7 linked regions of the Homo sapiens genome follow. The protein of the gene in region 1 purifies or fractionates together with the protein of each later gene. This does not show direct contact. Each region holds a gene or a part of one and is shown in the gene's direction. Other genes may lie near its edges.

Region 1 (4,196 bases):
GTAGTGTGCTCTGGATTCTCCTAGATGTTTGCCATCCTGTACTCTACTGGTGGTTTCTCTACTTTTCCAAAACAGAACTCAAGTGTAGAGACCTTATCAGAGTCATCTCCATCCCCTGAAGAAATGCCACGTTGTTCTCTACAGTAGAAATCTTTCAGAGGCTAGTATACACTGATCTTAGCTCACTTGACTTAGCATACAGTAGGCATTCAGAAAATGACTTTTATCAGTTGATTTTTGAGCTGAGTGTTCTGTTCAGTCAATTGGAGATCTCGTTTTCCCTCTCCACTGCTACTGCTGTTCTTTTTCATTCTTCCTGATTTGGGTAGTTTCTTGGTTTCTGTACTCTCCCACTACCTATTGCTCCCTATTGCTTTCTCTACTTCTGCATCGCAGGACTCCCTTCGCTTGACTTCTTTCACAGACAGAACTCACTGTGCCCCCAAATTTCCCTTAAAACAAAGCCTAACCATATAAGGCCTCCAAAGCTTCCAGTGCTATAGAAGCAGCCATCCTGAGCAAGAAACAGAGGCAGAGGCACAGGCTGTGACTGGTAGACCAAGGCAGGTTTTTCCTAGTGTTAAGGATCTCAAGACCTGGGTCTTGGTCCTACTTGAATCCTAATTTCTTGACTGACCTTGAGTAATTTACTTATGACAGCTGCATACTTTAATAAGATATACACATATGCATATATATATATATATAATCTAAATTTTGTCCTATTTAAAAAATATATTGCTTTTTTCCATATAAATTATTAAAATGCACATTTAAATCTATGGAGTGTATCTGCTTAAAGACATACTACTTGTGTTTAAGAGCCATGACTATTTGAAAACAGGAAAACCAAATTTTAGTAAAATTTCCATATATTGAGACCACTGATTCTGTGTGAGATAATTAGGAAAGAAGATTTATTGTTTACCCTTGCAGTGTTTATGGGGGGAAAAGGTATTTACAGAATTACTGTTGCTAGCGAGAATATACAGTAAAGTTTAAAACATTTTGGAGAATTGATTTTGATTCTTAAAATGTGTCTTTTTGCAACATATGCTCTGGTTACCTATAAATACATTAATTTGGCCCTTGAAAACATTCACATCCTATTCTTTGTTAGCCTTATTTTTCCAGTCCTTGTTAACTCTCTCAGTGCTGGATAATAAACCTGCATTTCTTTTAAAACATTTGTTCAGTTTCGGCATCAGTGTCTTCCCCCAGCACTCCCTTAATCTAAATTAGTAACATTTTACTGTATGAAAAATAGTTGCTGTTAACTAAAAATTCAATAGGTGAGTTAGACATGGCTTTTCAAGTAGGATTTTCAGTGGCTTCAGATTCCATCATACACAAGTGTATGTTTTTTCTGTGTAAGTTTTTTCCGTGTAAGTTTTTTCCGTGCTCAACCGTAAGTGCTCAACCATCTTCTCCCCACTTTAGTCTGCTATGTCAAAAAACTGCATCAAGCTTTTGTGTGAAGATCCTGTTTTCGCAGAATATATTAAATGTATCCTAATGGATGAAAGAACTTTTTTAAACAACAACATTGTCTACACGTTCATGACACATTTCCTTCTAAAGGTACGTAGTACTTTGGAAACTCAGTGTGTCATTTCTAATTAGTTAATGCTTGTGGTTTCATTATGCTGGTCTTTTGGAGATTTTTTTAAATCTTCTTTTTCAGGTTCAAAGTCAAGTGTTTTCTGAAGCAAACTGTGCCAATTTGATCAGCACTCTTATTACAAACTTGATAAGCCAGTATCAGAACCTACAGTCTGATTTCTCCAACCGAGTTGAAATTTCCAAAGCAAGTGCTTCTTTAAATGGGGTAAGAACTATGCAGAGGCGGCGGCACACACTTTTAAACTGTCCTTCAGTTAACTGTGTGGCCTTCATATGATTTTACTCTCGTAACTTTAACTTACTGATTCAAACTCTTAAGCCATGTGCGACAAAAAAACAAGTTTTAAATACACGTTTACTATGCCTTGTATGTACACAGCACACTCTATCACCTTGGAAGCTACAAGCTGGTATCATTAAATGCTGAAAGGTAATAAAGGGAACATCTTAGTGGTCTTATCTCTAGTTGGGTATATTTTTGGAAACAATACTTGTGATGTTTCTATTACTGCCTATGGCTCCTATGTAACTGAAACAATTAATGATCTACTGATTTAAAAAAGGCAGTTAAATCTAGAGCATTAGTTGCCTTGTGCAGACTCCCATGACAGCCATGTCCTAGAATAATGGAACACTCTGGAAATGGGCTAGAATGTTGAGCAGCAGCCTCCCAAATCACAGTATGCATAAAAGCCAAAACAGATGACAGAGCTCAGTAAGGAAGACCTTACTATTTGTGACATCCATCAGAATTTTAACTTGAGAAACTGATTTCAAGGTTTGTTTTTAAAATTCTTATATTTCCTTTTCCATTTTTCAGAAAACACTATTTCAGGCTTTGGTCTGACTTACTGGTTCGTGGGCATAAAATAATGCTATTAGTGACTTTAAGAACTAATGAGGCTGGGCACGGTGGCTCATGCCTGCAATCCAAGCATTTTGGGAGGTCGAGGCCGGTGGATAACGAGGTCAGGAGATTGAGACCATCTCAATGGCCAACATGGTGAAACCCTGTCTCTACTAAAATAGAAAAAATTAAGCCAGGCGTGGTGGCGGGCGCCTGTAGTCCCAGCTACTTGGGAGGCTGAGGGAGGGGAATCGCTTGAACCCGGGTGGTGGAGGTTGCAGCGAGCCGAGATTACACCACTGCACTCCAGCCTTGCCAAAGAACAAGACTCCATCTCAAAAAAAACAAAAACAAAACAAAAAAAAAAAACAACTAATGAAATGCTGTAGTATCTTAACACTGGCTTTCTGGTTTTATCATTCTAAGAATCCCAGAGAAACCAGGGTATTCTTAGGAAAGAATGGATTCCTGGGAAAATAAACATCTGCAATTAACTGTAAACAACTGCATCAAAGTGTTGGCTTTAGAATTTGAAATGTTCCTATCTGGGTTTTTGTAGGACCTGAGGGCACTCGCTTTGCTCCTGTCAGTACACACTCCCAAACAGTTAAACCCAGCTCTAATTCCAACTCTGCAAGAGCTTTTAAGCAAATGCAGGACTTGTCTGCAACAGAGAAACTCACTCCAAGAGCAAGAAGCCAAAGAAAGAAAAACTAAAGGTTAGCTTTATGGACTACTATCATTACCTTTAGGGTGGGAGGAGGGAGTAATACACTTGGTGTAACTGGTTTAAGAGTTGTGTGTTCAGCTGAACCTCCTAAATATAAATGCTAGAAACAAAATTAACTTCCCACATCCCCCCCTAACGTGATCTTAATGACTTTCAGAGAAGTTTCCCTTTTGGCATGTGTTTTCACAGATGATGAAGGAGCAACTCCCATTAAAAGGCGGCGTGTTAGCAGTGATGAGGAGCACACTGTAGACAGCTGCATCAGTGACATGAAAACAGAAACCAGGGAGGTCCTGACCCCAACGAGCACTTCTGACAATGAGACCAGAGACTCCTCAATTATTGATCCAGGAACTGAGCAAGATCTTCCTTCCCCTGAAAATAGTTCTGTTAAAGAATACCGAATGGAAGTTCCATCTTCGTTTTCAGAAGACATGTCAAATATCAGGTCACAGCATGCAGAAGAACAGTCCAACAATGGTAGATATGACGATTGTAAAGAATTTAAAGACCTCCACTGTTCCAAGGATTCTACCCTAGCTGAGGAAGAATCTGAGTTCCCTTCTACTTCTATCTCTGCAGTTCTGTCTGACTTAGCTGACTTGAGAAGCTGTGATGGCCAAGCTTTGCCCTCCCAGGACCCTGAGGTTGCTTTATCTCTCAGTTGTGGCCATTCCAGAGGACTCTTTAGTCATATGCAGCAACATGACATTTTAGATACCCTGTGTAGGACCATTGAATCTACAATCCATGTCGTCACAAGGATATCTGGCAAAGGAAACCAAGCTGCTTCTTGACATTAGGTGTAGCATGTCTACTTTTAAGTCCCTCACCCCCAACCCCCATGCTGTTTGTATAAGTTTTGCTTATTTGTTTTTGTGCTTCAGTTTGTCCAGTGCTCTCTGCTTGAATGGCAAGATAGATTTATAGGCTTAATTCTTGGTCAGGCAGAACTCCAGATGAAAAAAACTTGCATCTTCAGTATACTTCCTAAAG
Region 2 (3,538 bases), on another chromosome or scaffold:
AAGAACAGAGCAGAAACTCAGTTTTGTTCGCTCGCTCTCCCCCTGGGAGGACTCGCTTTGCCAGTCAGGACCCTGGGTGGTTACTGTTGTTGCAGGCTTCAAATTCTCTCTGTGAGCTGCTTGTAGTCTGTCCCAGGATCACCTGCCTCCTCCCAGTAGCCTCGCCTCTCCAGGGTTTCAAGTCCAAGGTTCTGGGTTCTGAAATGGGCCCCCTGTCCAGCTGCAGCCGGCTACCCTATGGGTGCTGGCCAGAATCCCAGCTCTACCCTGTGTCCCTGCTGTGCTAGGCCCAGGTCCCTTTCCCTGGCCACAGAGGGGAGAGTCTCCTGCAGGTTCTGAAACCTCTGTGCAGACAGCATCAGCCTCCTCCTTGCCCTCCTCCCAGAGAGCCAACCCAGCTTCCCACCAGGCCTCGCAGCCAGAGTGGCCCCCAAAAGATGATGCTCTCTGGGGACAGGGGCAGGGCAGGGCCATTGTGATGAGACTGTATGCTGGCCCCACAGGCTTGTGATGCCTGGAAGAAAGAGGCGGAGGAGGCTGGTGAGCGGGCCAGTGCGGCGGGCGCCGAGTGCGAGCTGGCCCGGGAGCAGCGGGATGCACTGGAGGTGCAGGTGAAGAAGCTCCAGGAGGAGCTGGAGCGGCTACACGCGGGGCCTGAGCCCCAGGCCCTGCCCGCCTTCTCCGACCTGGAGGCGCTCTCACTCTCCACCCTCTACTCCCTCCAGAAACAACTGCGGGCCCACCTGGAACAAGTGGACAAGGTCAGCCCAGGTCGGGGAGCACTGGGTGGGATGCACGGTGGCCTCAGCCAGCTCTTGGACTCTGACCTGGTCCAGGCTGCTCCAGGGATGGCCACCCTCCTGAGAGCCTCTGCCCAGCACTGGGCCAGCACTCAAAAGGCCGGCCTGCTGGGAATGGGTGAGGAGAGTGCACTGGGGAAGGTGAAAAGGCTGGGGGTGAGGGGTGTCGGTGCCACCCCCAGCACCCCTGAGGGCGGCCCTGACCAAGCTTCTCACAAATGCCTGGGCCCCAAATGCGTCCTCCTGTACACCCTCCATGGAGCAGCGGGCCTTCCAGTGAGGCCCAGGACCCCAGGGCTACCCCTGCCTTCCCAGGTCTCCTGCTGGGTCCCCGGGGCCAACGTGGCATGGTGGGAAGAGCTGTCTTTCCTCTGTTCTCGGGCAGCCAAGCCCCCGGGTGTGGCCCTGGGCATGTCCCAGCCCTTTCTGGGCCTCATTTTCCCCATCTGGGGATTACAAGGTCAAATGAGACTGGGCGAAGCCTCTCTGAGGGGTGGGTCTTGTGGCAGCCTGGCCATGCCCCATGCAGAGGTGGACTCAGCCTGCTCTCTCACCTGCCAACAGGGGTCTGGGAGCACACTGTTGAGCTCGGTACCTCAGTTTTCCCATCCCAAGGGGCTGCAGTGAGGATCAAGGGAACTCCTCGCTCAACTTGGGGCCAGACCCATGGATGGTGACCACGATGCCCCTTTCCCTGCAGGCCGTGTTCCACATGCAGTCGGTGAAATGCCTTAAGTGTCAGGAACAGAAGCGGGCAGTGCTGCCGTGCCAACACGCTGCGCTGTGTGAGCTCTGCGCTGAGGGCAGCGAGTGCCCCATCTGCCAGCCTGGCCGGGCCCACACCCTCCAGTCGTGACCCTGCAGGCCTGGCCCAGCCTGGCCCAGATCTTCTCACCTAGGACTTTTTAAAGTATATATATATATATGAATATATATATATATGTGTATGTATGTATGTATATGTATATGATTATGTATATGTATACATTTCCGTATGTATGTATATGTATACATTTCCGTATGTGTGCAGGTATGCGTGGTGGTGTGGACAGTGTCTGTGTGTATATCTGTACATAGATATAGACACACACTTTAAAAGACTTACCAAGCACTTTTTAAAAGAAGAAACTATTTTGCAGTCCTCCCCTACCCACTCCCTGCCCTTCCCACTGCAGAGATGACATCCCCTCTTCTCCCACTGGCCTTTTGGCAGAGAATCTGGTTCTGTCTCTTTTTTAATGTAGGAACTAACTATTTTTAACTTCTTCCTGGGGCCTGAGCAGGGAAGGGTGGGACTGGAAGGCACTAAGGGGAAGGGAGAAGCCCTCAGGGCAGGCCCTGCTCCCCCTACCTCCTTGCCAGGGCAAGGGTGGAGTGTGGAAGACGTGGGTCCCCCAGAGCAGGCCTGGCCCCCAGCTGTGAGGGCCTCAGGGAGGCCCGAGGGGGAGTGCTGGGGGTCTCAGCTGGCTTAGCTCCTAAGTTTACCAAATGTTAATTTAGTCTTGGGGAGAACAGCAAGGGCTGGAGGCCAGTGCTGCAGGGCCAGCCCCACTCCTGACACCTGGGCCCTTGAAGCTCCTTGAGGGGCAAGGCCCAGGAGTTCCAGCCCTCAGGTTCCTGAGGGTCCACCCTCAGTCCTTCCCCCCGCCGCCCCTCCCCGGACTCCCCACAAGAGCCTCCCTGGCCCCAGGGCCGCCTACCAGGCTGGTACTCATTCTATGACCACCGCCCCCAACCAGCTGCCCCCAGCTCTCCCTGCCCCCTCCCCTCTCTGGCAGCTAGCAGGGCAATTGGCGGGGAGGAGTGCGGACTGAGGACTGAGGACCAAGGGGGCCCAGGCCCTGCCCTCCTACCCGGAGGGGCTCCGTTTGCATTCCTTGGTGCTCTCTGAGTGCAGCTGGTGTCCCGCCCTGTTCTGGGCGGACGCCTGTGTGCGTGTGTGTGTGCCTGTCCAGTGTATATTGTGTCTTAGCTTCCATTTTAAAAATTGTTCTGTACAGAGAGAGATGCAGCAGGGGCGGGAGGGCAGAGTGGGCGGAGGGGAGCAGCCGCACCCCCAGCACCGGGTGTCTGCGGTAGGAACAAGAGGGCTGAGAGGGTCTGGTCCTGGCCCAGGCTCCCCCTTGGGCTCAGCACGAAAGGGCTTTCAATGAATTAAGTGAAAACTTTTTCCTTTTTTACAAAAATGCAAAAATCAACAAAGCTCCAAACCTATTGGAAATAAAATATGAACTTGCAGTGGTAGCTTGTTTACATGGGGGTGAGGGGGAGTGGGTCCCAAAAGAGGGCCTCTGAACTATGAGGTGGGCCAGGAGCCTTGCCTCAGCCATGGAAACGGCTGCTGCCCACACCCCTGAGCTGTGGTAAGGCAGCTGGAGAGGGCTGGAAACTTCCTGGGCCCATCAGGCCCCAAGACAGTTCAAGTGCTCTCCGACCTAGGCCTAGCGGTTGATGACACAGGGACCCTTAGCCTTGGACACAGAGGCCCCCCAGGCCCTAGGACTCTTTAGGGCTGTGTGGTCAGCGGTGACTGGCAATAGGGCCCGTAACTGTTTCTCAGAGGAACAGTGTCTTCCCAACTGGGCATGGTGGCGCATGCCTGTGGTCCCAGCTACTAGGGAGGCTGAGGTGGGAGGATCACTTGAGCCCAGGAGGTCGAGGCGGCAGTGAGCCATGATTGCACAGCTGCCTCCAGCTTGGGTGACAGAGTGAGATCCCATCTCAAAAACAAAAACAGG
Region 3 (4,196 bases), on another chromosome or scaffold:
CTAGTGTATTAGTCTATTCTTGCATTGCTGTAAAGAAATACCTGAGACTGGGTAATTTATAAGTAAAAGAGGTTTAATTGTCTCACGGTTCTGCAGGCTGTACAGGAAGCATAGCAGCTTCTTGGGAAGCCTCAGGAAACTACAATCATGGCAGAAAGCAAAGGGGAGGCAAGATGTCTCACATGGCTGGAACAGGAGGAAGGGGAGGGGAAGATGCCACACACTTTTAAACAACCAGGTCTTATGAGCACTCATTCACTATCACAAGATCAGCACCGAGGGGGAAATCCGCCCCCATGATCCAGTCACCTCTCACCAGGCCCTATCGCCAAAATTAGTGATTACAATTTGACATGAGGTTTGGGTGGGGACACAGATCCAAACCATATCAACTAGTTAGTTATATACATGGGAACTAAGTGATGTGCTATAAATGCCAAAGCATCAAACTGGCACTCAGAAGACCTGAGTTTTAGATCTTACTCTGTACTCAGTGACCTTATACAAGTCAGTCCACCTTTCTCTGACCATTGTGAGATGGGGTTATAATTTCTGCCCTGTCTTCTTTACAGGTTTGTTATGAACAGTTTTGTTATTTTACCTATAAAATGAAATACTGGAGATCAAAGGGGTTTTTAAATGTTCAAAAACTGGAGGGATTAGCTAATGATTTTCTGTTGCTTCCTGGTTCTGGGATGTTCTGACCAGAAACAATCTAAAGAAGCCAAGTCTCTTCATCTCAGAGCTTGGAAATAGCCCTGAGATAAAGTTAGACAAGAAGGTTAATATTCTTAAATTTAAAGCTCAGAGGATCCCAAATCAATTTCCATAAGAAGTTGAGGGTCACTTCATCTCAGAGGTGTTTTTTCCCATGAGTCTTTGTGTCAGATAGCTCTGTGTCATGACTTTTCCTTAAGCAGCCAGGATCCAGACAAGGTAAGAGGCAGAAGGGTCTGTGGATTTCCTTGTTTGTTTAGGAACTCTAAAAAATATTGTTTTTGTTAATTGGGCAAAGAACAAAGGCCTCCTCCAAATGTAGGCTTTTTGGAAAATTTGAGACTGCTAATTTTCTCTAAAAATTGCAGCGACTATTTGCAATTCTCAAATCTCATTGTATATGAGTGACAATTTTGCTTGCCCTGACTGAAAGGTGAGGCAAGATGGGGACAGGTGGGTAAGAGAGACAGGTTAATTGTGGGGAGAGGTGTTGATATTTCCTTAAAGATGACTCTCATAGCAATGTATCTTTCAGATGTTTTGTTACCCAGCAGTGAGCATCAATCCCATGCATTTACTCGTTCATGCATGAATTCATTTAACAAACCCTGAGCACACGTGCCAGTTACTGTGCTAAGCAATGGACATGGGGAAATGTAAAAGATAGGGTCTTAGCCCTCTAAAATTCAGTCTAGTGAAGGAGACAGACGCGTAACATAAAAGCTTTCAGTGGAGGTATGAGAGGAGAGCTATGAGGGCACAGGGGAAAGGGCAAAAAGCTGTATCAGGAATTGGAGAAGGCTTATTGAGGAAAGTGACTTTTGTGCTGAATGTTGAAGGATGTGCAAGAGTGTGTGATGAAGAAGAGGGGCTGAGATGGCAAGGCACAGTTTAGGTGAAGGAAACAGCAATGGGCAAAGAACCAGGTGGTTTGGATGGCCATTCATTTGAGAGCTTTCCATTAGGTATGACAACCTTGGAAAATTAATCTCTGAAAAATACCCAGATCAAGTTTGAATAATTATTTTGTGTGCATTTGGAATGAGCATCATCTACCTTCCGCAATTTGGCACATAAAAAGAAAATGATTGATTTAGGGAAGGTTTAAGAACCTACTGAAGCACTTTGTTTTTTCTTTTTTCTTTTTTTTTCTGAGCTGAGCCTTTTCCTCCCACCCCAATTCTGTTGAAAGCAATAAAGCTAAATGGTAGATCAATGGCTTTGCCAGTAAAATACCCAAGTTCCACTGGGGACTTTAACTGGATGAAATTTCAGTTCAATCCTGGGTCAGTAGTTTTAGAAAATATATAGGTTTGGGACTTGGTTCAAAGTGATTCACTAAATGTTTTGTTAATAAAAAATAAAAGGAGAAAAATATTCTAAGCAAAAAAAATGCCTATCTGGGTTTGATTCTGGGCTCAAGAAATGAGTGCAAGTCATTCCAGGTTTTTGCCATAATTTAGTTCAAGTCCTGGTGTCCAACTTTGTGATGAAACACCCCCATTTAATTTTCTGTTCAAATTGTTCTATTCTGCTGTAAAGGCTATACAATAGCCATCTTTTTAAAAAGGCAGTATCTAAATCTAGTGATAGCTGCAATGGACTTCTGGTTAAATAGCTTAGTTTAGGATAGGCACATCCAACAAGTTGTTCCTACCTGAGAAAATCTTTGATAAGAAAGAATAAAGAACTAAGTAGAAGGATATTCCTTTCAATTAAAAAGACACATGCTTAAAAGATAGGGCTAGTAAACTGTTTAAGAATTATAGCTATATGCATCTGTCTTCTCGCACCTGTGTACAGATAGTGAGAGTCTGGGAAGGCTGAACTGAGCGGAAGTCAATGGGAGAGTAACTTTAGTAGCAGGAATTAGTGCTGCTGTGGCCAACAGAAATTCCAGGTTCTAGGCCCTATATTTATTATTGTATTTAATACTTGGATCAGCCAGAGGTTAGATAATCTCTTAGTCACGTTTTACAGATGAGTCAGCTGAGGTTTGGCTAAGTTAGGTAACTTGCCTATACAGATCCAGGGTAGAGTTACAAAGCCCGTATTCTGTGTGGATCCAGAGCTGTGCCCTTAACCACTGCGTCTCAGGTAAGAGCTGTAGGACTGAGTAATATGACACATTTCATGTCTAACTCACCTAAATTAGAGAACCTAAGCTTTAAAGGGTTCTAGAGCAAAATGAAGATAAGCAAGGTGAGTTGGAAAGTATAGAAATTTACATCATTGTCTGTATATAAGATAGATATATAAGGTGTATAAGATAGATGTATAGATATAAAATAAATATCTAAGATAAGAGATATAAGATAGATATGTAGATATGATAGATATATAAATGTATAAGATATGTAAGATAGAATAAACCGTGCAAGTAAGTAAGATGAATGAGGAGATTCAGATTCCCAGCTTCCCACAGGACTTCTCCCCTGACATGTTTTCATAAGCAGCTAAAACTCTATGTCCCGGACTGACCTCATTAGTACCCCTTCCTCCTTGTCACCCCTTCACCTAAAACCTGTTCTTCCTGCTGTGGTCTTGGAGGCCTCTTCCCCTCTCTAAAGTCATCTCTCATCCCTCTCCCACCCCACTTTAGAACTGTGTGAAAGTTACTTTTGAATTCCTGGTGCCTAGTCCCATGCCAGGCCCACAGAAGGCATGGGTGCTTGCTGAGTGAAGGATGAATAAATATTTCAGTGCTGAGTAGCGTGCACCCCCCAAATGGACTTCCCCTACTGATGATGCACACAGGCAAATTTAAACCTTTCAACTATTTGTGTCACCCACAGATGAACAAATGCAAAAAAAAAAAAAAAAAAGAAAATAATCATGAGAGAAAAGAGAAATACAGCATTAAATATTTTAAAAAGAATAATAGGTTATCTCAGAGTATTTAAGGATTCTATTTTCCTTTAAAACTGTGCTTTTAAAGCATAAACTATATTCCTGGTCATTTAGTATTTGCTTATATTTGGCTGTTTTAATAAAGGCATATTTTAAGACACAATGCGGAAATTCATGGTTATAAATCTGAGGAGGAGGCAGACAGAGGAGTCACTATTTGAATCTTAATGGCCTCTTGACTAGAAGGGCCCTGCACCTGAAGTGCTCTACTCCCACCTGGTGGTGCAAGCAGAAAACTGCCAACATACATTTTAATAATTTTTTTTGTGTGTGTGGAGACCCAGTCTCACTTTGTTGCTCAGGATGGAGTGCAGTGGCGTGATCTTGGCTTACTGCAACCTCTGCCTCCCAGGTTCAAGTGATTCTACTGCCTCACCCTCCCAAGTAGCTGGGATTACAGGCGCCCACCACCACGCCCAGCTAATTTTTGTATTTTTAGTAGAGATGGTGTTTCATCACATTGGCCAGGCTGGTCTCGAACTCCTGACCTCAGGTGATCCACCTACCTCGGCCTTCCAAATTGCTGGGATTACAGGCATGAGCCACTGCGCCTGGCCAAGAATTTTTTT
Region 4 (4,869 bases), on another chromosome or scaffold:
GACTTTATGGTTTGGAGGGCTTGACTCCCCAGACCCTTAGATAGGAATTTGAGTAAGAAAAGAAAAAACGGCAGAGTTCAGTCTTCACCCTGGTCTCCCATTTAGCCAGCTCTACGTGTATTAAACTCTTTCTCTATTGCAATTCCTGTCTTGATAAATTGGCTCTCTCTGGGCAGTGGGCAAGATGAGTCCATTGGGTGATTACATTTCTCTCTTCCTCTTACTAAAGTAGAGAGAGTACTTATCCAGATTTTGAAATGGCATTGATGCAGGGCAGTTTCTTGGCTTTGCTCAGGAAAGAATTCAACAGCAAGCCAGCAGCGGAAGAAAGCAGGTTTATCGAATCAACAGTGTTAAAAGCTCAGTGACTGTTCCTTGCAGACCAAGACTAGCCCACAGGCAGTGTGCCCAGAGTAGCAGCATATGGGCTGTTGGCTGGGTATATTTATACCAACTTTTCATTACATGCAAATTAAGGGGTGAGTTACTCGGAAATCTCTAGAAAAGGGGTTGGTAACTTCCAGGTGTTGCCATGGCATTTATAAACCGTCACGGCGCTGGTGGGAGTGTCTTATACTGATAGGTAGCAAAGGGAACTTACAGGTTGCTTTCCATCACTTGCTGGTTTCAGCAGGTTTCTTATCTGATCTTGGAATCACGCCCTGCTGGTCTCCTGCCTCAGCCTAAATTGAACATTGTTCAGATGTTTACAGCTACTCCTATGTAGTCAACTTCCATTTTTTCTTCTTTACCCTTTCATAATAAACTTGGAAAAATATTTAGTTTCTACCTAGGAGAAAAGTGAATAGTATAGCTTTCTGTATTTTTTGCACTTCATGTCTTAATCCCTCACTTCACCTCCCTCTCCTTACTGAATATTCATAGACACTTTGGCAAATCATAAGACACCTTTACAGATTCCTGATTCTGAGAGCAAGAAGTGATGTGATTCCTTAATCTGAACTGAATGTTTTCAAGATTTTATATAGGATAGAGCCTATTCAATACTATAATACTTTCTTCAGTATCCTGCGAATGAAAGAAAACTAAGCGCAAGAAAAGTGGAGAATTTTGCTGCTTTTGTTTCATGTCCTGCTGGATGATTGCATCTCCTTTTTTGAGCATTTTTAATCACAGATGAATCCATACCCATATTATAAAAGGCTTGTTGCTCTGGGCGGCTCTGGCCACCTCTTTTATTACCTCTGTTTTTAGCTCACACATAGCATTCCTTTGTATTTTCCTTTTTTTTTTTCATATTCGCAACTTCTGTCACGTATAAAAGGGAACAATGGCAAAAGGAAAAAGCAGGCTGAGCTCTACAAGCAATGACTTAGACTCCCCCCGCTAATTCAAAAGGAAAATTGCAGGCTGGCGGGAAGCTCAGCCCTACAGAGGATTCTGGGACGTGTGGTCCAGACTTTTGGGGGCACTTCAGCTCTGGGAAAGCGCGGCTTTGTTATTTGCTCCCCTGGGGAAATAGGAACCTATACCCCAGTGCTCAGTGGGTTCGGTGGTACTTCGACTATTTGAGGACGAGAACACGAAGCCCGCTCCCCTTGGGGATTCTGAGAAATAAGATTCGGCCGTGGGAGTCGAAGCCCGCACTTCCGCCCAGGGGGCGGGGCAGCGGCTTCCGTTCCTCCCGGGGATGCTGGGAAATGTAGTTCCAGAGCTCCCTGCTCTCCCGGGCACTTCCGCGGCAAGAGGTTGAGAGCGCGGCCTTCATTCCTCTCGTGGAAGTGAGTGAGTCCTGGGACCCCGCGACCTGTTTTAACTTTTATGGTTTGGTCGTAGGATCAGCAGGGCTCGCACTTCGGTCAGCAGGAAAAGACGCTGCGGCGAGCAGCGGAGGGCGGAGTTGAATGGCTGGGCAGCTGATTGCCTTACTGTATCCGGAGCTGCTGCGTTCGGGGCGGTTCGGGAGTCCCCTGGTTGGAAGTGGACCTGAATGGGGAGGCGTCTGAGGATCTCCTGGGCTCTCAGCGGCCCGACCCGCCTTCCCCCACCTCCCACAGCTCTGTAGCTTCCTAGCGGTGTAACGTTGGGTGAGAACTTAATCTTTCGGTGCTTAGTTTCTGGTCTTAGTTTCCTCTTCTGCAAAAGGAAATATTAACCTTATATATTTGTTTTGACAATTAGTAATATAGTACAAGTAAAATGTGTATGGAATAGTACAGGAATGTGGCAACATGTCGGCCGTTAATATTAAAACTATCATAATAAAAAATATTCATTTTTCAGCAAGCGCCTGGCTCTTCTTTCTGATTCCTGCAGGAAAGGAGGCTGTTCTTGGACTATGCCTGACCCGTTTTTTAAGAAAGAGTGCATCACTCAACAGGTGGCGTCTGGAGTTATCCTCTGTGGATTTTCCAGGATCTCAGACAAGATCGTGCAATCTCCCAGCCTCCTTTCCTTCCCCTGCCCTGACTTCTGAAAGAATGCTGCGGGAGAGGAGGAAGGAGAGCATCCTGGCTTCTGGCAGCAGAGCCCCACTGTGACAGGACCTAGCATTCACCTTCCTCTTCTGTTCCGAGTGCGAGAAGGTATTTCATTCCTTGCAAATGTTTCTGCTACAGAAGTGTTCCGTTATTGTATAATTGGAGAAAATGTGACATGAATATTAGTCACACTAGTTAAACATTGGGTGCTGAGTATCACTCTGAGGGCTTTATAAAAACTAACACACTGAACCTTCACAAAGGCCTTGTGTTGTGGGTTCTGTTCACCTTACAAAGGTGATGTGGGTATTGTGATATGGGTACTGTTATTACACCAATTATACAGATGAGGAAATGGAGAGAGCCTAATTTACTTTCCTATATCACAGTGCTAGTAAGAACAGTGGGATTTGTGTCCTAGACTTGGGTTCCTTACATCTGAATACCCTTGGTCTCACAGTTTGAAATCCCAATTTAGAATTAGGAAATAAAATAGATAAATGATCCATATAAATAATCATAGGAAACTGGCTGCAGAGGAGCCATTTGAGATCAAGTTGGGGAGGGAGGTTGGAATTTTACTGTAGAAGATTTTGAAAGCAAGGTTGAGTTTAGACTTTAGAAAATTTTGAAAGAATTCTCATTTAATTTTAAGCAATATTAGTAGTTCATATTTTGATCATAGAGATGCACGTTCTCTGTACAGGATGTAGAAAATACAGAAATATAAAATATTACAAATTTCCTTAATACTAGGATATAGATAATTATTAACATTTTAATGCATTTCTGTTTAGCAGTTTTTAATGTGTTTTTGTCTGTGTTTTATGAAATTGTTATCACACTATTCATAGTGGGTTGTTATTCCCTTATTTTTTACTATGGAAATATCCAAACATACCCAAATATAATGAACTCTTATGTACAGTCACCCTGCTTCCATTCTTGCTAATCTTATTGCCTCTCCCACCAACTTTTTTTCCCTTGAGTATTTTAAAACAAACCCAGATGATGAGTCAGTAAGGCTTAAAAACTAATAATTATCATTAATTGTGTTTTTTGTTTTTTGTTTTTTTTGAGATGGAATCTTGCTCTGTTGCCCAGGCTGGAGTGCAGTGGTACGATCTCAGCTCACTGCAACCTCTGCCTCCTGGGTTCAAGCAATTCTCCTGCCTCTGGCTTTACAGGTGCCCGTCACCACGCCCTGCTAATTTTTGTGTTTATAGTAAAGACTGGGTTTCTCCATGTTGGCCAGGCTGGTCTCAAACTCGACCTCAAGTGATCCGCCCACCTCAGCCTCCCAAAGTATTGGGATTCCAGGTGTGAGCCACCATGCTAGGCCTCACTAATCGTTTATATATGAAGGCCAAGGGAGGGGCAATTATATTCATTTGCCAGGGCTGCCATAAGAAAATACTACAAATTGGCTGGATTATACAGAAATGTATTTGTTACAGTTCTGGAGGCTAAAAGTCCAAAATCAAGGTGTCACCAGTTTTGGTGGCTTGTAAGGCCTCTCCCCTCTGTGTGCGTGAGCTCCCTTGCTGTAAGTCAACTTCATCACCTCTTTAAAGGCCCTATTTCCAAAGACAGTTATTTCTGAGATACCGAGCGTTAGGACTTTAACGTTTTGAGAGAGGCACACACAATTCAGCCCATAATAGATATTAACAGTAACTCTGAGGTTTTTCACTCCTGGCAGCTAGGAGAATGCTACTTATGTGAGAAAGCTAGAAAGAGTTGCAATTAGGAAAAGAAAGATGATTGATTTTCTTTGCTTTTTTGGAGTTGCACTTGCCACTGGCATATAACTCTTGGTTTCCTATCTCTCTCCCATTAGACTTCAGGGACCTCTGTTTCATGGACATTATCATATTCTTCTCAAGAGTACCCAGCAAGAGGTTTGCAAAGAGGAGTTATTCAGTGAGTAAGTGATTCATGTAGCTCTCCAACAGGCATCTGGATTTTGGGTGCTACAGCTTGCAATTAGAGAACAAAATAGAAGGATTATCCACAGTCCTTGTCTGTTATCTCACGTTTGGTGGGCTGTAGAATCCATCAACTTTTTCAGGGTATTCAAAAGTTGATGAACAATTGTGGATAATATTGTCAAGATCTAAAACAAACTCCCTTAAAGACAAATCAGACCACTATTAAGGTTCAGTTTTTTGGGTTTTTTGGTTTGTTTGTTTTTTGAGACAAAGTCTTGCTCTGTCACCCAGGCTGGAGTGCAGTGGCGCGATCTTGGCTCACTGCAACCTCCGCCTCCTGGGTTTCAGCAATTCTCCTGCCTCAGCCTCCCCAGTAGCTGGGATTACAGGCGTGCACCACCATGCCCAGCTAATTTTTGTATTTTTAGTAGAGACGGGGTTTTGGCATGTTGGTCAGGTTAGTCTTGAACTCCTGACCTCAAGTGATCTGCCCGCCT
Region 5 (4,196 bases), on another chromosome or scaffold:
TTTAAAGCTCATTTTTATCATTTCTAAAATGGGGATGTGATAATGCTATTTTGAAGTCCTTTCCAATAATGAAGTGATATAATACTCATAAAACACCAGTCGTGGTACTTCAGATGCGTAGGGAATGTTACTCATCCACCCTTCTTCAGCCATTTCATTACTGAAGTACTGTTAAGTTTATGCCACAGCCATTATGTTTTTTCTTAAATTCTCTTTGCCATTTAGAAACTATAAATGCATAGGAACTCAGTCCTTTCCTACTGAGAGTTTGTCACTCAATTCTGCATATTACTGCCAGGGTGAGCTCACATGACGCTGAAGCCAGGTCCTTGTTAGTGGGATGAAGGTGACACAGCCAGATGAGTTTTATCTCTGCAGCTGGGGATCACCAGCTGCAGCAGACCTCTCAGCGGCTCCATCCTTTACTTCTTTTAAAGCTGATTATTTCAGTTAACAAGAAGAAGATTCCCTGTTTATTTTTTGCATTTACTAGTATTTTATTTCTAAAATACTAATCTGGGACCGGTGGTAGATCAGAAAGTAGAGCAGTCAAAAAAGACAAAAATCCCTGACCTCATGCAGCTAAAATATTAGTGAGTAAAGACAGTAAAATACACATAATAAGGTGAGAGCATGTATTTCTTCACATCTACACTAATACTGAGATAATATTTAAAGTCGATTATTGTGAAACAGATGTGAAAGTGCCCCCAAGTTGGCTGGGCGCGGTGGCTCACGCCTGTAATCCCAGCACTTTGGGAGGCCAAGGTGGGCGGATCACAAGGTCAGGGGTTCGAGACCAGCCTGGCCATCATGATAAAACCCCATCTCTACTAAAAATACAAAAATTAGCTCGGCGTCAGGGCGGGCGCCTATAATCCCAGCTACTCGGGAGGCTGAGGCAGGAGAATTGCTTGAACCCTGGAGGTGGAAGTTGCAGTGAGCTGACATCGCACCACTGCCCTCCAGCCTGGGCTACAAAGCGAGACTCCGTCTCAAAAAAAAAAAAAAAGAAGTGCCTCCAAGTTGATGCAGACTATTGCCATCTAAATGTTTACATGTGACTATGTCACAAAGATTCTTTTTCTGGATATTGTTAAAACTTATAAATAAGTTGTACATGATAAAATGGCATTGATACTGCATTTAGCATACAATTTTGCACTTAGATTTGAGAGCATTTTTGTTGAAAGAGATTCAGTAGTTTCATACTAAAGTTCCAAATATTACAGAAGTTTCTCAGCTATAGAGCAACTTCTGAGAATTTTTTAATATATCTGTTTTTGGTCTTTAAGATTACTACCACTTATTAAGCACTAGAGGGGAAAAAGAGAAAGCCACAGGTAACTATTTTTTTTTTAACTCATCTTCTATGTGTGATCATACAAGCAATTTATTGTAGGAAATTTCAAAATATAGAAAGCATCAAGAAAAAAACTAAAAGCAGCTGGGTGCAGTCGCTCACACCTGTAATCCCAGCACTTTGGGAGGCCGAGGCTGGCGGATCACAAGGTCAGGAGATCAAGACCATCTTGGCCAACATGGTGAAACCCCGTCTCTCCTAAAAATAAAAAAAAATTAGCTGGGTGTGGTGGCACATGCCTGTAATCCTAGCTACTCGGGAGGCTGAGGGATGAGAATCCCTTGAACCCAGGAGGTGGAGGTTGCAGTGAGCTGACATCGTGCCACTTCACTCCAGCCTGGTGACAGAGCAAGACGCCCTTTCAAAAAAAAAACTAAAAGCAACCAAAATCTATCCCATTACCCAGGGGATAACTACTTTTTGTTGTATATTCTTAATTTTTTTTCCAAAAGTAAACATTCTAATAAAACATACAAAACTATTATACATTTTAACTTTCCTGGTAATGGATTAAGTCTTAATGTTCAATTTTGTTTCAAATACATATTTCAGATTACTGTTTATTTCAGGTTCGCGGACCTTCCCGAGCTGATCCTAACCATCTTGTAGATGATCTGCTAACACCTTGCTCTCCAGGTGACCCTGGTGCCATTGAAATGACATGGATGGATGTCCCTGGAGATAAACTTTTGGAGCCAGTTGTTTCCATGGTTTGAAATTTTGTTTGTTTTTAAGAAAATATTTTAAAACATTATACTTCATAATTTTCAGTTATATAAGATTTGCTGGAAAATCTTAGTATAAACAGGTGTATTTTACTTAATATTGTTGACTCATTAAAAATTATGAAGTTAATTGAACTTAAAATATAAAAAGTCATTATTTTTAAACTATTTTCTTGGGTTTAGAGGAACCTTTAAGTGAAAAAGCTATTTTTTAAAGCACAAGATTCTGACTTTACAGGTCTTATAGCTAGAATATCTCCAAAATGCTCATATATAGTATAATTATTGTAAAGACCTAACTAAAAAATAGGGTTGGTGAAATATTTTTTTTCCCCTGCATCTCAGATTTTTTAAAATAACCAGAAGTCACCTGTAATCCCAGCACTTTGGGAGGCCAAGGCGGGCAGACCACTTGAGGCCAGGAGTTTGAAACTGGCCTGGCCAACATGGTGAAATGCCATCTCTCCTAAAAATACAAAAATTAGCCAGGCAGTGTGGTGCACACCTGCAATCCAGCTACTCAGCTGAGGCAGGAGAATCACGTGAACCAGGGAGGCAGAGGTTGCAGTGAGCCGAGATTGCACAACCGCACCCCAGCCTGGGCAACAGAGCGAGACTCTGTCTCCAAAAAAAAAACAAAAAATAGGGCCAGGTACGGTGGCTCATGCCTGTAATCCCAACACTTTGGGAGGCCGAGGCGGGTGGATCATGAGGTCAGGAGATCGAGACCATCCTGGCCAACACGGTGAAACCCCATCTCTACTAAAAATACAAAAAGTTAGCCAGACGTGGTGGCACGTGCGTGTAGTCCCAGCTACTTGGGAGGCTGAGGCAGGAGAATAGCTTGAACCCAGGAGGCGGAGGTTGCAGTGAGCCGAGATCATACCACTGCACTCCAGCCTGGGCAACAGAGCGAGACTCTGTCTCAAAAAACAACAACAACAAAAACAAAAACCAGAAATACTAATGCTTGTATCATTGTTTTTATAGTGTTTTCTATTTCACTTCTCAAAGCTCCATAGAAAGTTTAAATATTGTAGTTCTATTTTTATTTTTAAAAATTACAGTTAATATAGTTTATATTGGAAGAATTAAAATAATCTACAAGACTTACTTTGCAAGGCATGTTATTTTTAGGGAACTTAGGGTGATTGAAAAGTTGTTTACTTACAGAAGAACATTCTCAGTTTTCAAAATTTTCTGTCAGTTTCAGATCTTCAAAGACCTTTAATGGCAGGTTTAATAGTAACTTCCAGAGGAGAAACTTTTACACGGTACATAGATATACATGTAAATGTGTATACACCCATATATTTGTGTGTGAACTAACCATAATGCTTATCTGAGAAGTTACTCAGAAACCCCTTTGTTTTAATCCTTGGTGTATTATTTTTTATTTTTTGTACTTTGTTCAGCTTTGAAGAATTTTTAGTAACTTAGAGTGGTCCTTTTCATTATTTTTCATATCCTTTTACAGGAGTCTAGGCTTAGAAGTTAGTTTTTTAATGAATCTCTGATATTAGCATATTTTTCTAACCATTTCGATCTTAATTGTAACTAATTATTTTAAAATTCTGGTTAGTAGATTTTTCATAGAATGGTATTCTGCTTCACTTAAGTGTAAGTGAATGATATTTTCCTTTTGAATTATACTGACTTGGAAAATTGATCTCGTTTAAGAAAAAGAGATAAGGCCAGAAATTAGATCATGAACATACTTTGGAGGCCTTGATCCTCAGACTAAGGGGATTGTCCTTCTGATAAGTATTGGGGAGCCATTTGATCAGTTCAGGGGAAGAAAGTATACGTTTCTACACAAAGGAATAACATGATCAAAGATCATGAAAGATCTGTGAAAGAATAGGGGCCGGGTGCAGGGGCCCACGCCTGTAATCCCAGCACTTCGCAAGGCAGAGGCAGGCGGATCACCTGAGGTCAGGGGTTCGAGACCAGCCTGACCAACAAAACGAAACCCCATCTCTACTAAAAATACAAAAATTAGCCAGGTGTGGTTTCAGGTGCCTGTAATCCCAGCTACTTGGGAGGCTGAGGCAGGAGAATCTCTTGAACCTGGGAGGCAGAGGTTGCAATGAGCCAAGATCACGCCA
Region 6 (4,196 bases), on another chromosome or scaffold:
CTGCAAAGAGCCCTAAATTATAAGAATTATGGGGGATCGGAGGAGGAAAATAAATGAAAACAGAAGACCATAAAAGAATACTTTGCATTCAGTAGAAAACCTGTCAGTACTGTAGGACAAAAAGGAATAGATTCTACATTTTACATCACCAGTGATGCCTCCTCATGGTTTAACCATTTCTTCCACATTCTGCCTAAAGGGAAAACTGTGTCAGCAATTGCTTTTGGTTTTTAAAGTTATAGGTTGCTACTACATGGATGTGACTAAGAAAATACATAGATTATCTTAAAATGGGCATGATGTAAAAGACTCAATCAGTAGGGTAACTAAAAACTTTGTAGTACTCTAGCTTTGGAAATCTGAGAGGCCTATATAGTTCATTTGAGTGTTTGATCAAATTCTTATTGAGATTACAGCCTGTGCAAAATATTTGTGATGCATTTTTAAGTTTACTTAAGTACACTTTGAAATTCTTTAAAAATTTTAAAATCTTTAAAAGGACACAAGAGTGTACCACATTGAGATTAAAATGTGTTTATTATTAATTTGTACATAATACTATAACAAATAATTGTTCTCAGGTATGTTTAAGGCCTTATTTTAAAAGTTGATTCTTCAATTTCTAATTTAAAATAAGCTTTTAGTTTTTCTCAACTATGTATATGTAATGATTATAGATGCCTAGAGTAGTGTTTCCCAGACAACTAGAACCACACACAAATTAGTACCACCAAAAAAAAAAAAAAAAAAACTTCATGAAGAACAGGGATTACTGGTCAAAAAATACGAGAAACACTTCATTTCTGTTAGGAGTATATTAAAGGCTTTTGAGAAGACCACTAGTTAAATGTGTTTTCCAAACTTGATCACAAAACTCAACTATAATATCTATAAAGTTAGTCCATAGCACAAACATGCTTAAATTTGTTGGATAAATGCATAAACTGTGAAGACATAAACACACTTTGGCAACTGCTGGTCTCTTTAAGAGATGGAATCTACCTTTTAGCTACCAATAAATTCCATACCACATTTCATTGATTTAAAAAACACATCTTTTTAAACATCTCTGAAATAGATCAGGGGAGGCTTGCTATCACTGTTGGCCAAATGGCTTTCACTTAATTGTCTAGGTAACATCATCTACACTTAATTATTATTTCCTAATGACATAATTGGACTATTGCAATCCTTGAGCTTTAAATCAGCAAATCATTACAGAGGAATGTAAGGAATACAAGCCTTGGTTGTTACCTGAAAATCTTCGGTAGGCACCTCCCATTAAACACAGAGAGCATCTGTTCAGATCTTGCAATTTCTATGGAGAAATTTTAGGAATAATCTCATCAGTTTATTTTGCATGTACTTTTTGCTGTTCAAGAGAATTATAAATGACAAAATTGATGGATAAGTCCTAAAGAGTAAACATTGATCTGGGCATAAATTGACAGTGGTTTTTCATTTTTGTAATGTATAATATAAGGTACACTTTTATAATTAATGGTGTCCTAAATACAATCAAAAGCACTGTTTATAATACAGGGTTTTTTTTTTACAGATAAAGCATATGATATAGTCCAGTTGACCCTTGAATAACGTGGGAGTTAGGGGTTCCAACCCCCTGTGCAGTTGAAAATCTGCATAAAACTTTTTTATTTCTCAAAAACTTTACTAATAGCCTACTGTTGACTGGAAGCCTTACTGATAACACAGACAGGCGATTAATATGTATTTTGTTATGTGTATTATATACTGTATTCTTACAATAACGTTAAAGAAAAAATACTAAGAAAATCATAACAGAAAGTATATTTACTATTCATTAAGTGGAAGTGGACCATGGGAAAGGTCTTAATCCTTGTCTTGTGTTGAATATACTGAGGAGAAGGAAGAGGAAGGGTTGGTCTTGCTGTCTCAGGAGTAGCGGAGGCAGAAGAAAATCTGCATATGTCATTCAAGGGTCAGCTGTACTTTCCTTGATAGTTTCACTTATTCTAAAAGATTAATCCTACTTTAGAATTATAGAATTGGTATTTGTACCCCATTCTTGCTAATTATCTTATAGTTTTGTGTGTGTGTGTGTGTGTGTATATATATATATATTTTTTTTTCCTTCTATTTAGTTTAAAGTTCCTGCTGCAACAAGTGCAATTATTACCAATGGTAAGAATTCACTATAAAATTATGTATTACCTCAAATTTATAGAAATGGTGTAAAAGGAACCAAATTAATTAAAATTAAATACAAAAAGCCCCAAGTATATGTATATCAACATAAATGATATACTTACTGGTAAACACTAAGTCAGGGTTATTGTTAATAATTAGCTCCTTTCATTTCTTTGTATATAGCTTTTGATATAGTATAGCACTTTATAATATCTTTTGTCCTTACCAGTTCATGCCAGATTATAACTGAAAATAACTTTATTTAGCAAGTTTTTTTTTTTATTAAGTAAAGTTGTTTGGTAAATGCTTTAGAATATAGAAAGTTAAGCAGGAATGTATCTTTGCTATACCTTTCCTGATAGAAAATTGTTTCTTGTAGGCTTGCAATAATGAGAATTTTATTCCGTTTTAGGTATATAATTAAAAATCTTAATATCTTGGAACACTGATAATCAATGATGATGGAATTAGTCTTGTGAGAAAATAGTGAAATAATAAGATGAGGAGTAAAGATTGCAGGGAGGGCTTAACTGTGTTTCAAGTATACAATGCAGTATTGATGAGTGCTGATGCGTTGCCCAAGTGCAGTTTGGACAGGAGATGGGCTTAATGTGCGTGATGTAACTTAGATAAGGTAGAATTTCTCACTCTAAAATATTCTGCATTCTGTCACATTGAAGTGTTTCTCTGTTGGAAAAAAGCTGGCTTACTACCTGGAAAGTTTTAGGTCATAACTTAGTAACGTGTTGAACTAAATGACTTTGTGAGCTCTCCCAGCCTTAAGATATTATGACCTAGAACAATACGAAGATGATTCATGGCATACCTAAGGGGCTTTTTAGTTTTTTGGAAGAAAGGACAAACATTATTTTTAATTCTATATGGCAAAATAGAATTAATAACCTATATTCCATAGAACTTACCAGGATCATTGCATTGACAGACGTTTTTGTCTAACCCAGCAATGTGTATGAATGCAGAATAATAGTAGATTTCAACAGATAATTTACCTGAAAGATTGTCACTCGTGTTCTTGGATTTAAAGTGTTTGGCTTATGTCTATATACACAACAGCACTATTTTGGCAAATCTCTTTCCTTGCTACTATTTAACCATTTTAGCTTTAGAAATAATGTATGTGATTTTACAACTTATTTTCTAGATGGAATAGGAATAAATCCTGCACAGACTGCTGGTGAGTATTTGAAAACTCATAGAGGAGTGGGTGGGGTTATATATGTCAATTGACACTGAATAGTTAAGCTATTCTAATTACACTTGACAGTATTTTAACATAATGGAGCTGTTTTTTAGGGATTATATACCAGTCTTTACCTGTGTGTCTGAGTAATAAGTTGTTTCATTGTGTATATTGATTGTAGATGTTTTTGGCTACAAGTAACAGAAAACCTAATAGTGGCTTAAGCATTAAGAGTATTTATTATATATAACAAAAAGTCTGTAGATAAGATTGCTTTCTAATTGGAGTATTTTTTGACCTACCTCTTAAGGTAGTTGTGAGATAGTGACTGTAAAGTGCTTCATAGCTTGGATTATTTATAGAAAGCATTCATTAAGTGCTATTATTTTTTTTAAATATAGTCATTTACATTTCAAGGGGCTGAGTCTACATTCAGATCTTCAAACTGTTAAATTTATACAGGTGATATATTGGTGTCCTGACCAGGAGACAGGGTAAAAGTAGTCTCATACTTTATAAAAAGAAGTCTAAAACTTTTTTAAAATTAGTTTTATATTTTTAAAATGTAATCTCTTAGGCTTATAATCTAAAGTTTTAAAATTAGGCATGCTTTAATGTAACCTCATTCTAGAGCAGTAGTTATTTTTAAATTATATTCTAAAGTATTTCTTTATTGTAACAAAATTATGTTGTTTTCACAGGCCTTGCAGTTGAAATTCAGCCATAAAGAAAATGAAGTGATTTAAAATTGCAAATTTTTGTTACTTCAGTAGTTGTTAATATATAATTTTATTAAAAAGGTTTATTGAAAATCGTGAGGCACTTT
Region 7 (4,196 bases), on another chromosome or scaffold:
CCTACTCTTGCTGGTTTTGCTCCCCACACTGAAGCCATGTAGCCTCTGACAGCCTCACTGGCCAACACCATATTCTGATACCTGTGGAGCTATTTTTTTGTTTTTCTTTCTTTTTCTTTTTTTTTTTTTGAGACAGAGTCTTGCTCTGTCGCCCAGGCTGGAGTGCAGTGGCACAATCATAGCTCACTGCAGCCTTCAACTCCTGGGCTCAAGCAAATCCCCCACCTCGGCCTCCTAAGTAGTTGGGACCAACGTGTGTGCCCCCACACCTGGCTTGGAGCCTTGTTTCAGCCCATTTTCTCCTTCCCTCGGCTATCGTCATCCTTCATGCCTGCATGCCTCAGTTAGGGGTGTGTTCTCAGCATTTGTCCTCATCTCTACCTCCTCATCTGAAATCCAGTGTTTTGGGGGGTAAGGTTTTATTGAGGTGTAATTTATATACAGCACAGTTGTACAATTTTAAGTATACAATTTGATGAGGTTGAGCAAACGTATACAGTTGTGTAACCAGCACCACAATCATGATATGGGACGTTTCCATGACCCAAAAATGTCCTCATGCCCCTGTGCATTCAGTGGTCTCCCCTCTCCCCTTGGTAACCACTATAGTTTTGCTGTAGATTTTCCTCTTTAAGGATTTCATATGGAATTTATATTATGTGGTCTTTTGTCTCTGCTTTATTTCGCTTAGCATATGCTTTTGAGTTTATCCATATTGTTGTGTGAATCAGTAGTTTGTTCCTTTTTATTGGTGAGTAATATTCCATTTGTATTAGTCTGCTAGGGTTGCCATACAAAGTATGGCAGGAGGGCTTAAATGACAGAAATGTATTTCCTCACAGTTCCAGAGGCAAGAAATCTGAAATCAAGGTGTCAGCAGGGTTGATTTCTTCTGAGGCTTCTCCTTGGCTTGTAGATGGCCACCTTTTCCCCGCATCTTCACATGGTCTTACCTCTTCTATGTCTGTGTCCAAATTTCCTCTTCTTATGAGGACACCAGTTATATTGGATCAAGGCCCACTGCATTGAATTCATTTTAACTGAATTACTTCTTTAAAGAACCTCTCTCCAGGCCGGGTGCAGTGGCTCACGCCTGTAACCCCAGCATTTTGGGAGGCTGAGGTGGGTGGAACACTTGAGGTCAGGAGTTCAAGACCAGCCGGCCAACATGGTGAAACCCTGTCTCTACTAAAAATACAAAAATTTAGCTGGGCGTTAGTTCTCGCCTGTAGTCCTAGCTACTCAGGAGGCTGAGGCAGGAGAATCTCTTGAACCCAGGAGGCAGAGGTTGCAGTGAGCTGAGATTGCACCACTGTACTCCAGCCTGGGTGACAGAGTGAGACCATGTCTCAAAAAAAAAAAAAAAAAAAAAAAACCTCTCTCGGAGTTACCAAGCATTGAGACATAAGAATTTGAGGTGAGGGGTATACATTTCATCCCATTGCTCCATTGGATGGAGCAAACTGCTCCGCAGTTTGCTTATCCATTCACCAGCCGATGGACATTTAGGTTACTCATAGGCTTTTGCTATTACAAATAAACCCGCTATAAATATTTGAGTACACGTATGGCTGTGCATTTTAATTTCTCTTGCATAAATACCTAGGTGTGAAATTGCTGAGCCATATAGTAAATATATGTTTGTCAATTTTATTGATCTTTTCAAAAAACAATTTTTTTGTTTTATTGATTTTTCTCTATTTTCTGTTTTCCATTTCAGAGATTTCTGATCCTTATTATCTCCTTGGTGTCTTAAGATTGAAACTTACTTTACTTACTTTAGTGTCTTAAGATTGAAACATAGATATTGATTTGATACCTTTTTTCCTCATATAGCATTCAGCGTTGTAAATTTCTAAGCACTGCCTCAACTATATCCTACAACTTTTGTTATGTCACATTTTCACTTTTATTCAGCTCAAAATAGCTTCTAATTTCCCTAGTGATGTATTCTTCAGCCATATGTTATTTCAGAATGTGTTGTTTCATTTCCTAATATTTAGGGCATTTTCCAGATAACTTTCTATTATGGATTTCTGATTTAATTCTATTGTCATCAAAGAATGAACTTTGTGTGATTTAAAGTCTTTCAAGTCTACCAAGATTTATTTTATTTCCCAGAGTGTGGTTTATCTTGGTAAATGTTCCACATGCCCTTGAAAAAATATGTATTATGCCTTTGTTGGTTAGAGTGTTATGTAAATATCAGTTAAGTCAAGTTGAATGATGGTGTTTTTTAATTGTTCTGTCAGTTTTTGCATTATGTATTTTGAAGCTCTTTTAGTAGATACATTTATATTTAGGATTGCTATGAGTTCTTAATGAATTAACTGTTTTATCATTATGTAATATTCTCTTTGTCTCTGATAGTCCTCTCTCTGAAATCTACTTTGCTATTACTATAGGCACTTGAGCTTTTTTTTTTTAAATTAGTATTTGCAGGGTTTATCTTTTTCTATCCTATCACTTTTAACCTATCTTTGTATGTAAAGTGGGTTTCTGTAGCTTGCTTTTTGAATTCAGTTTGACAATCTCCACCTTTTAATTGGAGTGTTTAAACTATTCGCATTTAGTGTAATTATTAATATGGTTGGATTTACATGTCCTTTTTTTTTTTTTCTTTTGACAGAGTTTGGCTCTTGTCACCCAGGCTGGAGTGCAGTGGCGCAATCTTGGCTCACTGCAACCTCCACCTCTTGGGTTCAAGCAATTCTCCTGACCTCAGGTGATCTGCCACCTTGGCCTCCCAAGTGCTGGGATTATAGGCGTGAGCCACCCCACCCGGCCTTGCTATTAGTTTTCTATGTCTTATGTCTTTTTTGTTTCTCATTTCCTCCCTTAATGACTTCTTTTGAGGTAAACACATACTGTTCTAATATACTCTTAATTCCTCTGATTTCATTAATATTTTTCACCTTTTAGTTATTTGATTGGATGCTGGACATTGTGAATTTTACTTTGTTGAGTAGGTTTTTGGAATTCCTTGTTTCTGGGATTTGTTCTGGGATGCAGTGAAATTACTTGGCATCTATTTGATCCTTTCAAGGATCAAAGCAAGTCTGGAGTTGGGTGGTGGCCAGGATGCCCAGGCCCAGGGGGAGCAGGCAGGAAGGATTGGAAGGCAGTCAGGTGAGGACTGCAGGTAGCCTCTCTTAGTCCCTTGGGGCACAGAACTTGCTGATATATACAAGGTTTCCTTCCTTAGAGTGTAATAACAGTTTCTAGTCTGGGATCGGATCCTTTTGCGTTACTGAGCTTTGAATAGAGTTGCTGGGATTTTTGTACTATTAATATTCTCTCAAATTTTTAAGTTTGAAATTCTTGACTCCAGGAAGCATAGCATCTCACCCAGGACTTAGAGCCTGATACAACAGCCATGTACAGCCCCTGGGTCCCACCGCAAGTTGCCAGGGCCCTGTGGTGTCTATTCAGACCTGCTTTCCCAATCTAGAAGGTGGTGTGGGAATGCATGCCAATTCCCAGCCCCCCTCCCTGCCCCTGGTCCCCGAATTCAGTCATGGTCAGTGTCTACAGCACAACCTTCTGGCATGGGAGAAGGTCACCTGAGGTTAACCCTTTACTTGTAGGGTCCTTAATCAATCTCTGGCTCCTTTGGAACCATGGACACAGAATCAGTCCTGGGTGAGAACCTATATGTCATTTCAGGAATCGGTGAGTTTCAAGGATGTGGCTGTGGACTTCACCCAGGAGGAGTGGGGTCAACTAGACTCCCCTCAGAGGGCCTTGTACCGGGATGTGATGTTGGAGAACTACCAGAACCTTCTTGCCCTAGGTAAAATCCCCCCAGCCCCAGGCTGGGCGTCGGCTGTCAGCCTTCTTCTACATGGTAGATATTAAGGAGAATCCCTTCAGTGCCGGCCCTGGTGCCAGATATATCATGGGGTGGGAAGCAAGGCCTGTGCCTTGGGGCACTCATGGCCAGGGGCCTCGGCCACGCCAGAAGTCCCCAAGGGACAGCGTGGGAGCTGGTAGCATCCTTGCTTGGTGTTTCCCCTGGTCCTGGGATAGGGGCAGGGAGAGAAGAGAAGAAGGTGGGACCCTGGAGCCCAGCTGGCTCTGGAACAGTCCTCAAGCAATGAAGTAAGGACGTCAGCACACGTGGGGTCTTCAGAGTATACACTGGGATTTGGGTTCCAGTCTGAGACCCTCACTGCTTTTGGCCCAGAGGACCTCCT

Evidence for each region.
Region 2: the proteins of USP34 (region 1) and UNK fractionate together in Homo sapiens (co-fractionation; one large-scale study listed by BioGRID). This does not show direct contact.
Region 3: the proteins of USP34 (region 1) and VSIG1 purify together in Homo sapiens (co-immunoprecipitation; one large-scale study listed by IntAct). This does not show direct contact.
Region 4: the proteins of USP34 (region 1) and ZNF45 purify together in Homo sapiens (co-immunoprecipitation; one large-scale study listed by IntAct). This does not show direct contact.
Region 5: the proteins of USP34 (region 1) and VPS4B fractionate together in Homo sapiens (co-fractionation; one large-scale study listed by BioGRID). This does not show direct contact.
Region 6: the proteins of USP34 (region 1) and UFM1 fractionate together in Homo sapiens (co-fractionation; one large-scale study listed by BioGRID). This does not show direct contact.
Region 7: the proteins of USP34 (region 1) and ZNF74 purify together in Homo sapiens (co-immunoprecipitation; one large-scale study listed by IntAct). This does not show direct contact.

Annotation. Positions count from the first base shown.
Region 1 is NC_000002.12:61,187,903-61,192,098, reverse strand, and holds part of USP34 (ubiquitin carboxyl-terminal hydrolase 34), read left to right. Parts: intron 1-1,440; coding exon 1,441-1,581; intron 1,582-1,684; coding exon 1,685-1,828; intron 1,829-3,029; coding exon 3,030-3,189; exon of another isoform or gene 3,190-3,389; coding exon 3,390-3,997; 3' UTR 3,998-4,196. UniProt on the Homo sapiens protein: Ubiquitin hydrolase that can remove conjugated ubiquitin from AXIN1 and AXIN2, thereby acting as a regulator of Wnt signaling pathway.
Region 2 is NC_000017.11:75,822,762-75,826,299, forward strand, and holds the end of UNK (RING finger protein unkempt homolog), read left to right. Parts: intron 1-503; coding exon 504-761; intron 762-1,500; coding exon 1,501-1,656; 3' UTR 1,657-3,038; downstream 3,039-3,538. UniProt on the Homo sapiens protein: Sequence-specific RNA-binding protein which plays an important role in the establishment and maintenance of the early morphology of cortical neurons during embryonic development.
Region 3 is NC_000023.11:108,068,369-108,072,564, forward strand, and holds part of VSIG1 (V-set and immunoglobulin domain-containing protein 1 isoform 2 precursor), read left to right. Parts: intron 1-4,196.
Region 4 is NC_000019.10:43,932,103-43,936,971, reverse strand, and holds the start of ZNF45 (zinc finger protein 45), read left to right. Parts: upstream 1-1,689; 5' UTR 1,690-2,048; exon of another isoform or gene 2,049-2,277; 5' UTR 2,278-2,546; exon of another isoform or gene 2,547-4,281; 5' UTR 4,282-4,368; exon of another isoform or gene 4,369-4,869. UniProt on the Homo sapiens protein: May be involved in transcriptional regulation.
Region 5 is NC_000018.10:63,391,286-63,395,481, reverse strand, and holds part of VPS4B (vacuolar protein sorting-associated protein 4B), read left to right. Parts: intron 1-1,932; coding exon 1,933-2,073; intron 2,074-4,196.
Region 6 is NC_000013.11:38,355,970-38,360,165, forward strand, and holds part of UFM1 (ubiquitin-fold modifier 1), read left to right. Parts: intron 1-2,123; coding exon 2,124-2,163; intron 2,164-3,331; coding exon 3,332-3,364; intron 3,365-4,071; coding exon of another isoform or gene 4,072-4,097; exon of another isoform or gene 4,098-4,196. UniProt on the Homo sapiens protein: Ubiquitin-like modifier which can be covalently attached via an isopeptide bond to lysine residues of substrate proteins as a monomer or a lysine-linked polymer.
Region 7 is NC_000022.11:20,396,966-20,401,161, forward strand, and holds part of ZNF74 (zinc finger protein 74), read left to right. Parts: intron 1-2,629; exon of another isoform or gene 2,630-2,725; intron 2,726-3,666; coding exon 3,667-3,793; intron 3,794-4,196. UniProt on the Homo sapiens protein: May play a role in RNA metabolism.